Linked DNA regions of Homo sapiens: region 2 is linked to region 1. A link means that fine-mapping ties the variant in region 1 to the expression of a gene that starts in the linked region. Tissue or cell type: adrenal gland. Region 1 holds a variant in brackets; the other region holds the start of a gene. All regions are shown on one strand. Distances are from middle to middle.

Region 1 (4,381 bases):
TTTTGAGGCTATATGAGTAGGTGCTTTTATGTTCCTGGTGTTTGTATTTTCTTGTATTACCTCATTCTTTGTCTTTTATATTTTTCCTCTTGTATCCTCTTTTGTCAAATATTAAAATTACTTCCCTGATTTTTTTTTGGTTTATATTTGCTTCATGTATTTTCTTCCTTTTGTTTATTCCTTCTATTTTCTTGTTTAAATATTTGAAATGGTTTTTTATTTTTTTTCAGATGGAGTTTCACTCTTGTTGCCCAGGCTGGAGTGCAATGGTGTGATCTTGGCTCACTGCAACCTCCACCTCCTAGATTCAAGCGATTCTCCTGCCTCAGCCTCCCGAGCGGCTGGGATTATAGGCATGTGCTACCACGCCTGGCTAATTTTTTTGTATTTTTAGTAGAGATGAGGTTTCTCCATGTTGGTCAGGCTGGTCTCGAACTCCTGACCTCAGGTGAACCGCCTGCCTTGGCTTCCCAAAGTGGTGGGATTATAGGCATAAGCCACTGCGCCCAGCCCGTGATAAAGTTTTTTTATTTTCAGTGTTTCTCTTGTATGCAACATATTGCTGAACCTTAAGGAAGAAACTCAACCCAGGAACGTTTGTCTTTTAAGAAGTGTGTTTACTTTACCCATCTTTATTACAATTACTATAATATTAGGACTTATTCTGCCATTTAATTTTATATTTTTCATGTACTGTGCCTTCTTTGTTGTTTCTTTCCCCACCTTTGTTACTTTCCATTACATAGAGCCAACATTCTTCTCATGTTTTGAAAACTATACATTCTATTTTCTTGTTAATGTAGTTGCTTTAATTTGACTTTATGCTACTTCATTGAATAATTTTTAATTATTTATATTCTTCCTAATAATAAAGTTCCTTTCACACCCTCCTATCCCATCAGTCTTGTCTTTTCCTTCCTCTTTTTTTTTTTTTGAGATGGGGTCTTGCACTGTCTCCCAGGCTGAAGTGCAGTGGTACGATCTTGGCTCATTGCAACCTCTGCCTCCTGGGTTCAAGCAATTCTGCCTCAGCTTCCCGAGTAGCTGGGATTACAGGTGTGCGCCACTGTGCTTGGCTAATTTTTGTATTTTTAGTAGAGACGGGGCTTCACCATGTTGGCCATGGTTGGCCAGGCTGGTCTCGAACTCCTGACCTCGGGTGATCTGTCTGCCTCGGCCTCCCAAAGTGCTGGGATTACAGGTGTGAGCCACTGCACCCGGTCCGTTCTGCTTATTTTCATCATATTCATAGTATCTATAATTCAGGTTTTTTTTCTTTTTTTTTTTTTGGTGTAAGTTCCCAACCAATGGCCTTGTCCTTCGAGTACTTTTCCTCAGGCTGATGATAAAAGTTCTGTGTGAAGGTCCTTTTGCTTCAGCTCATCTATGGGACGGAGTCCAGCTGCAAATATATGACACAGTAACTAGAGACTCTACTCTCCAACCAATCATTCCATTCTGATTATCTCTCACTCTCCTCCACCTCTTCTTTCTCAGACTCTCTCCCCCTTTTAGCTTTTGTTGATATTCAATTTTATTATGTCATTTAATCATGTTTATTTCCTATATTGCAGGCATCATCCTATCCTCTTGAACTTATTTCTCTTCTTATTTGGATACTTTGAGAACTGTAAATGTAGGTCTTTGTGTGACAAACATTCTGAGGCTTTTGTAATGCGATAATTTTTTTTTTGTTTTTGAGACAGAGTCTTGCTCTGTCACCCAGGCTGGAGTGCAGTGGCGCAATCTCAGCTCACTGCAGCCTCTGCCTCCCCGGGTTCAAGCAATTCTCCTGCCTCAGCCTTCTGAGTAGCTAGGACCACAGGCACGCGCCACCATGCCCGACTAATTTTTGTATTTTTAGTAGAGATGGGGTTTCATCATGTTGGCCAGGCTAGTCTGGCTAGTCTGTAACTCCTGACCTCAGGTGATCTGCCCGCCTCGGCTTCTGAAAGTGCTGAGATTACAGGCATGAGCCACCACGCCTGGCCGAGAATATTTTTTACTATATTTTCAAATTTGAATGACTATTTGGCTACACAGAATTTTTTTTTCTTTCTTTCTCTCTCTCTCTCTCTCTCTTTTTTTTTTTGAGATAGAATCTTGCTCTGTCTCCCAGGCTGGAGTGCAATGGCGCAATTTTGGTTCACTGCAACCTTAGGCTCCTAGGCTCAAGAAATTCTTGTGCCTCAGCCTCCTGAGTAGTTAGGGATTACAGGGGCATGTCACCACGTCCGGCTAATTTTTGTATTTTTAGTACAGATGGGGTTTCAATGTGTTGGCTAGGCTGGTCTGGACCTCAGGTGAACCTCCCACCTCAGCCTCCCAAAGTGCTGGGATTAACTGGGTGAGCCACTGCACCTAGCCTAAAATTTCTTTCAGTACTTACAAACCTTGCCACTTTCTTGTATTCAGTGTTTCTATTGAGAAGTCTGATGTCAATTTGATTCGTGTTCCTGCAGGACAGTTCTCCCCATGGCCTTGGCCTTATCCAGTTATCTCCCCTTTATCACTTGGAGCTCTCAGGAATAACTGTAGAATG[G/T]GCTGAGATACAACATCCCGAGATAAAGAGGGACTGGTGAACAGCCTGGGCCCCGTTCCAGTAACCCCTAGAAACAGGATGTCCTTCAACTCATTAGCCAAGCATGTCACATTGCCCCAGGGGTGTAAATCCAGGGCAGGCTGCTTTTTTTGTTTTGTTTTTTGAGACAGGGTCTCGCTCTGTGGTCCAGGCTGGAGTGCAGTGGCATAATCACGGCTCATGCAGCCTTGAACTCCTGGGCTCAAGAAATCTGTTCTCCTCAGTCCCCCAAGTAGCTGGGGGTACAGGTGTGTGCCACCATGCCCAGCTGATTTTTTTCTTTTTCCTTTTCTTTTTTTTTTGAGACGGAGTCTCACTCTGTTGCCCAGGCTGGAGTGCAGTGGCCCGATCTCTGCTCACTAAAACCTCTGTCTCCCGTGTTCAAGCGATTCTTGTGCCCCAGCCTCCCAAGTAGCTGGGATCACAGGTGCCCACCACCACATCGAGCTAATTTTTTTGTATTTTTAGTAGAGATGGGAGTATCACCATGTTGGCCAGGCTGGTCTCAAACTCCTGACCTCAGGTGATCCGCCTGCCTTGGCCTCCCAAAGTGTTGGATTACAGGGATTACAGGCATGAGCCACCGCGCCTGGCCTGTTTTTTATTTTCTAGAGATGGAGTCTCATTATATTCCCCAGGCTGGTCTCAAACTGCTGGCCTCAAGCAATCCTCCTGCCTCAGTTTCTTAAAGTGCTGGGATTACAGGCGTGAGCCACCATGCCCAGCCTTAGGATGCTTTTTGGAGTCCCTCAGCTGAGATGCAAGTGGGGCACATGTAACTGAGACTCCATCTGCCCTGGGCAGCTTTTCTTTTTTCTTTTTTTCCTCTTTTTCTAATCCAGTATGACTGGTAGTTCCTGGGCAGCTTTTCTGAGCCTTGGGGTACCAGCCTGCCATGAATCTGAGGCTTCTGTTGTCCCCTGCTTTCAATCTGTAAGTAATAAACCTGCTTCATGTAACTTGAGTGTGTCTGTGTGTGTCTGTTTAACTTGACTCAGACAGGTTGAAACCAGTGCACAACGGACCTACTTCTCAATTCCTTTGTAGGCAATCTATTGCTTTTGGAAATGTTCAGAGTTTTAATTGAATTTGATCTTCTTCCACTTCAATATGAGTCTAAATGTGTTTTTTTCCTCAGTTACCCTATTTAGCATTCTATGAGCCCTTTCTATCTGAGATCTTTTTCTCTAATTCTCAGAAGTGTTTCAATGTTATTACTTCATTATTTCCTCCTCTCTGTTTTTTTTTTTTTTAATTCCCTGTCTGGGGAATCCTGTTATCCTGATATGAGCACTCTACTTCTATTCTCCATAGCACTTAGCTCCTTTAAAAATATTCTCTTTGTTCTCTACTTCTGCCTTCTGGGAGAGTTTCTCAGTCTGATCATTTAGCTCATCCATTTATTCTCCAGTTGTAGCCATCTTTTATTTTTCCCAATGATTATGCTCTTTATTTTATTTTATTATTATTTTATTGACACTCTGTCACCCAGGCTGGAGTGCAGTGGCACGATCTTGGTGCATTGCAACCTCTGCCTCCTGGGTTCAAGCAATTCTCCTGCCTCAGCCTCCTGAGTAGCTGGGATTACAGGCTCACACCACCACACCCGGCTAATTTTTGCATTTTTAGTAGAGACGGGGTTTCACCATGTTGGCTAGAATGGTCTTGATCTCTTGACCTTGTGATCTGCCCGCCTCTGCCTCCCAAAGTGCGGGGATTACAGGCGTGAGCCACTGCGCCTGGACAGTTATTTTTTTATGACTTCTTGTTTTTATTTCTATCACTAATCTCTCCTTTATC
Region 2 (4,381 bases), 26 kb before region 1:
TCCTGGGAAGAGGATGCCTGGGTGCATGCTGGGACCTGCTCTGCCTGCGGTGGGGGGTGTGGGGAGGGAAGCCTTCCCCAACCTGTAGCTGCTGTGGCCTGGAGGCCGAGCAGGGGGTGGGGGAGAGGGGCTAGATTCTGGGCTCTGGAGTGGGTGGGAGCTGTGTGCCTTCCAGCTGCCTTCTGCCCTGGGGGCTTTGCTAGGCTCCTGGAGAAGCAGGGTTTTGGGGTGCATGGAGCTTCACTGATGTTTGTGATGTCCCCTGCCCTCAGGATGCTCAGGAATTCAGTGATGTGGAGAGGGCCATTGAGACCCTCATCAAGAACTTTCACCAGTACTCCGTGGAGGGTGGGAAGGAGACGCTGACCCCTTCTGAGCTACGGGACCTGGTCACCCAGCAGCTGCCCCATCTCATGCCGGTATGGACGGAGCACACCCCACCTCAGCCAGTACCCTGACTTCCCAAGCAAGTGCTCCGGGACCCCACCCACACTGGCACTTGCAACCCCCAGCTCTTCCCCCTTGCCAGTGCTAGGTAGCCTCTGCTCCTGCTGTCTGCCCGTGGGCAGGGTGGGGTGGGAAGATTGGAAGGTGCTGCATCCCTGAGCCATGGTTTCTTCACTCCCCTCAGAGCAACTGTGGCCTGGAAGAGAAAATTGCCAACCTGGGCAGCTGCAATGACTCTAAACTGGAGTTCAGGAGTTTCTGGGAGCTGATTGGAGAAGCGGCCAAGAGTGTGAAGCTGGAGAGGCCTGTCCGGGGGCACTGAGAACTCCCTCTGGAATTCTTGGGGGGTGTTGGGGAGAGACTGTGGGCCTGGAGATAAAACTTGTCTCCTCTACCACCACCCTGTACCCTAGCCTGCACCTGTCCTCATCTCTGCAAAGTTCAGCTTCCTTCCCCAGGTCTCTGTGCACTCTGTCTTGGATGCTCTGGGGAGCTCATGGGTGGAGGAGTCTCCACCAGAGGGAGGCTCAGGGGACTGGTTGGGCCAGGGATGAATATTTGAGGGATAAAAATTGTGTAAGAGCCAAAGAATTGGTAGTAGGGGGAGAACAGAGAGGAGCTGGGCTATGGGAAATGATTTGAATAATGGAGCTGGGAATATGGCTGGATATCTGGTACTAAAAAAGGGTCTTTAAGAACCTACTTCCTAATCTCTTCCCCAATCCAAACCATAGCTGTCTGTCCAGTGCTCTCTTCCTGCCTCCAGCTCTGCCCCAGGCTCCTCCTAGACTCTGTCCCTGGGCTAGGGCAGGGGAGGAGGGAGAGCAGGGTTGGGGGAGAGGCTGAGGAGAGTGTGACATGTGGGGAGAGGACCAGCTGGGTGCTTGGGCATTGACAGAATGATGGTTGTTTTGTATCATTTGATTAATAAAAAAAAATGAAAAAAGTGAAACATGTTGTCTTGACTGGACACCCCCTCCCTGAGGGTCCACGGGTGAGAGGAGCTTGGGGGTGAAAGGCAAAGTCATTGGTAGGGTGGGGCACGTGGGGCTGGAGTGGTTGGCTGTGGAAGTGAATGGGGACTCACTTTTCCCTATGGGTTTGGGTTGAGGGTGGTACCAGGTCCAAAAGGGCAACATGGTCCTCTCTGAGGGACAGGCTCCTCTTTGCCAATGGGCGGGCCCTCTTATAGGAGAGGAGGGTATGTGTGCACACTTGGGGAAAAGGATATTAGTCCAGGTGTTCTGAGCCCTGGCTGGCACAACCAGGGAAATGGGGTGGGTGGGGGTGGGGGGCGGTTAGAAACAGGCTGACTGGCCTGAGTTTGAATCTCAGATCTGCCACTTATCATTGGAATTTTGGGCATGCTCTTAGTATCAGTTTCCTCATCTGTAAAATGGGGGATATGAATATTACTTCCACAGGATTGCCAGGAGGACAATGCCACACATCATGTAAAGCACTTACAGAGAGCCTGACACATGGTGAGTGCCCAGTGACCCAATATCATTCCCGCTGGAGTGGGCAAGTGGGCCCCTCTTTGGTTTCAGCTGCTGCCCTAGTGTAGGGAGGTCGAGCTGGCCAGTTTCCTTGGGTATCTTAGGGAAACGGTGGGGTGTGGGGAGTTTCCAGAGGAGTCTTCTGGTGTACATGAGGGATCTTAGGGCTGGGTCTCAGTAGAGCTGATGGGTCAGACTAGAGACAGAAGACCAGGGAGCCAGACAGGTCCCTGGCATCTGCCTTCTGATTTGAGCACAGAAGTCGGGCGTTACTCCTGAAACCCCAGTGGCAAGGAGGTTTCTGTGGCCAGTTAGGCTGGCCTGGAATGTTAACTGAACTTGTCTGTTGGGAGCCCCTGAAACTGGGATCCCAGTGACCCAGGTGAGAAAGGCAGGTGATAGTCCTTCCCTTCCTTTCTCTACCCTGTCAGGTTCTGCTCAGCCCCTGCGGGGCTGGGAGGGTGGGGTTGGGGGAGTGCCAGTTTTCACCACTCCCTCTGGGATGGGGGTAGAGGGGTGTGAAAAAAGGTGTGTATCCCTTTAACAAGGGCCCAACCCCAGGGCCAAGTCAAGAAGGAGCTCAGCCACTATCTCCCCACCGAGCCAGCTCAGCGGGCAGGGCTGGGAGGGAGTGGGACAGATTCTGGGAGTGCAGCGGGGAGGAGTCCCGGCTGGGCTGAGCGCAGGGAGCTGCTTGGCAGTGCCAGAGCCCAGGCCCCAGAGCCCTGCTGGAGAGGAGGCAGACTGAGGCAGCAGGTGAGCACCCTGGGCCCGGCCTGGGAGGTCTTCGGCTGCCGGAGGGCCCCACAGTATTGGGAGGCCAGGAGAAGGGGCAGTGAAGGGGGCCTGGGGAGAGGGGCCTGCCAGAGAGCAGGCAGGAAGATTTTGGTAATTATTAACTTTCTCCCACAGGCCAGTTTAGGAATGGGGAGTCCTGGGGGGTTGGGGGCTGGGTGAGGCCTTTAGAGGGATGGATGGGATGGTGAGACCCCCTCCCTGCCGCAGCAGCTGACGGAGCTCCTCTCCAGGGGCAGAGTATTTGGAAGCTTTGACCACAGCTACTCGATCCTCCCCAAAAGGAGAGGACAAATGCGTGTTGGTCTGGGTTGGGGGTGGTCAGAGCTTGGACACAGGCCTTGCTGGGCTCTGGGAGCTGTGTCCTAGGGGAGGTGATGGGGTCCAGAAGGAACCAGGCAGTTTCCAGGGAGCCTGAGATTCCGAGAAGAGGAGGCGGGGGCTGAGGTGGCGTCCCCTCTACCTCACGACCCAAGCAGACCCCACTGTGTTCCAGGAGCTGTTCCTTGAGAGGGATGATGAGATCTGGGAGGAACCCGAGTGAGGCTGTGGGGAGCCTGCAAGCTCCCTGGGAGAGGGAAAGATAGAGAGAGGGGGGCTGAACCTCGGCAGCTCCTCCACCTCAGGACCCAGGCAGGCCCCGGCTTGAGCTGCTTTTCTTGGCAGAGCCACCTGCACTATGGGAGCCTTCCCCTGCCCAGCCCAGTGGGGATGGTGGTGAGGGCAGGGGTGCTGGGGAGCTGGCTCTGCCTTTCCCCACATTCTAGTAAGTGTTGTTGAGGCTGGGGTAGCTGTGTGTGTGTTGGGGGAGGCGGGGGCAAGATCCACACTGAACTCCTCCAACTTCACTTGCCTGGAAAAATTTCAGAGGCTGGCTTCTTGCTCCAAGAACTGAAGTGAGTGGAAGGGTGATGGGTCACCCAAGCAGAGGGGATCAGGAATGGCCGAGGTCCTTGCTCGGTGTGTGTGTGTGTGTGTGTGTGTGTGTGTGTGTGAGAGAGAGACAAAGAGAGTTAGACGCAGAATCCTGTGAGGATGGTAAGGGGTGAGGCAGGGCCAAGCAGGCCCCACTATGCTCCGGGAGCTGTTCCTGGAGAGGGCCTTGTGGAATTGGAGAAAGAACACAGGAAGGAGCAGAGAATGGAACAGCTGAGGCTGGAGAAATTTCATTTGAAACAGCCTTGCTGATAGAGGTGGCATTGTCAGCCCAGTTCGGATGGCACCTTCCCTATATATTGAAGTTAGAGAGGACAAATGAGTAAATGAAAAAGGGAATGAATGAATGAATGTGCAAGAGAGTGAATGCATTATTGAATGAGCAAGTGAATGAATGAGAGTGAATGAATGAGCCAATAAATGAATGAGTAAGCAAACTCATGGTGCCTAAGTGAGCAAATGAATTCCAGGTAGATGGAAGGGACACAGAGAATCCATACTTAGGCTTGACAGTGGGCTAGGCTCTGGAGAGAACAGTGACCAGGAGGGACAGGAGTCTAGGGACACATCCCAACACTTGGAAAAAACTTAAGACTCCAGAGGTGTCTGTGGGGTGAGAAGAGAAGGTGGACTTAGGACGGTGTGGTGGATGTTTGGAGCTCCAGACGGAAGGAGCCTGGGGATGCTAGGGGTGGTTAGGAGGC

Direction of the effects. Alleles are on the strand shown, and positions count from the first base shown. SD is a standard deviation of normalised expression in the study named.
For the expression in adrenal gland of the gene that starts at base 2,517 in region 2, allele T in region 1 goes with a lower level than allele G (large effect, 0.94 SD a copy in GTEx).

What was found. PIP is the estimated chance that this variant, and not a neighbour inherited with it, causes the effect.
Region 2: it holds the start of S100A16, and the variant in region 1 is the best candidate, but not a certain one, in a credible set for the expression of S100A16 in adrenal gland (GTEx, PIP 0.63).

Annotation. Positions count from the first base shown.
Region 1 is chr1:153,585,726-153,590,106 of GRCh38, reverse strand. No RefSeq gene overlaps it. Among named protein-coding and RNA genes, the nearest start is that of S100A2, 22 kb to the right of the region's middle. The variant G/T (reference allele first, on the strand shown) is at 2,543.
Region 2 is chr1:153,611,273-153,615,653 of GRCh38, reverse strand. It overlaps S100A16 (S100 calcium binding protein A16), which reads left to right and starts at 2,517. Exons shown (of 3, transcript NM_080388.3): 1 at 2,517-2,702. S100A14 (S100 calcium binding protein A14) reads left to right here. Exons shown (of 4, transcript NM_020672.3): 3 at 273-419; 4 at 632-1,399. The coding sequence ends at 769.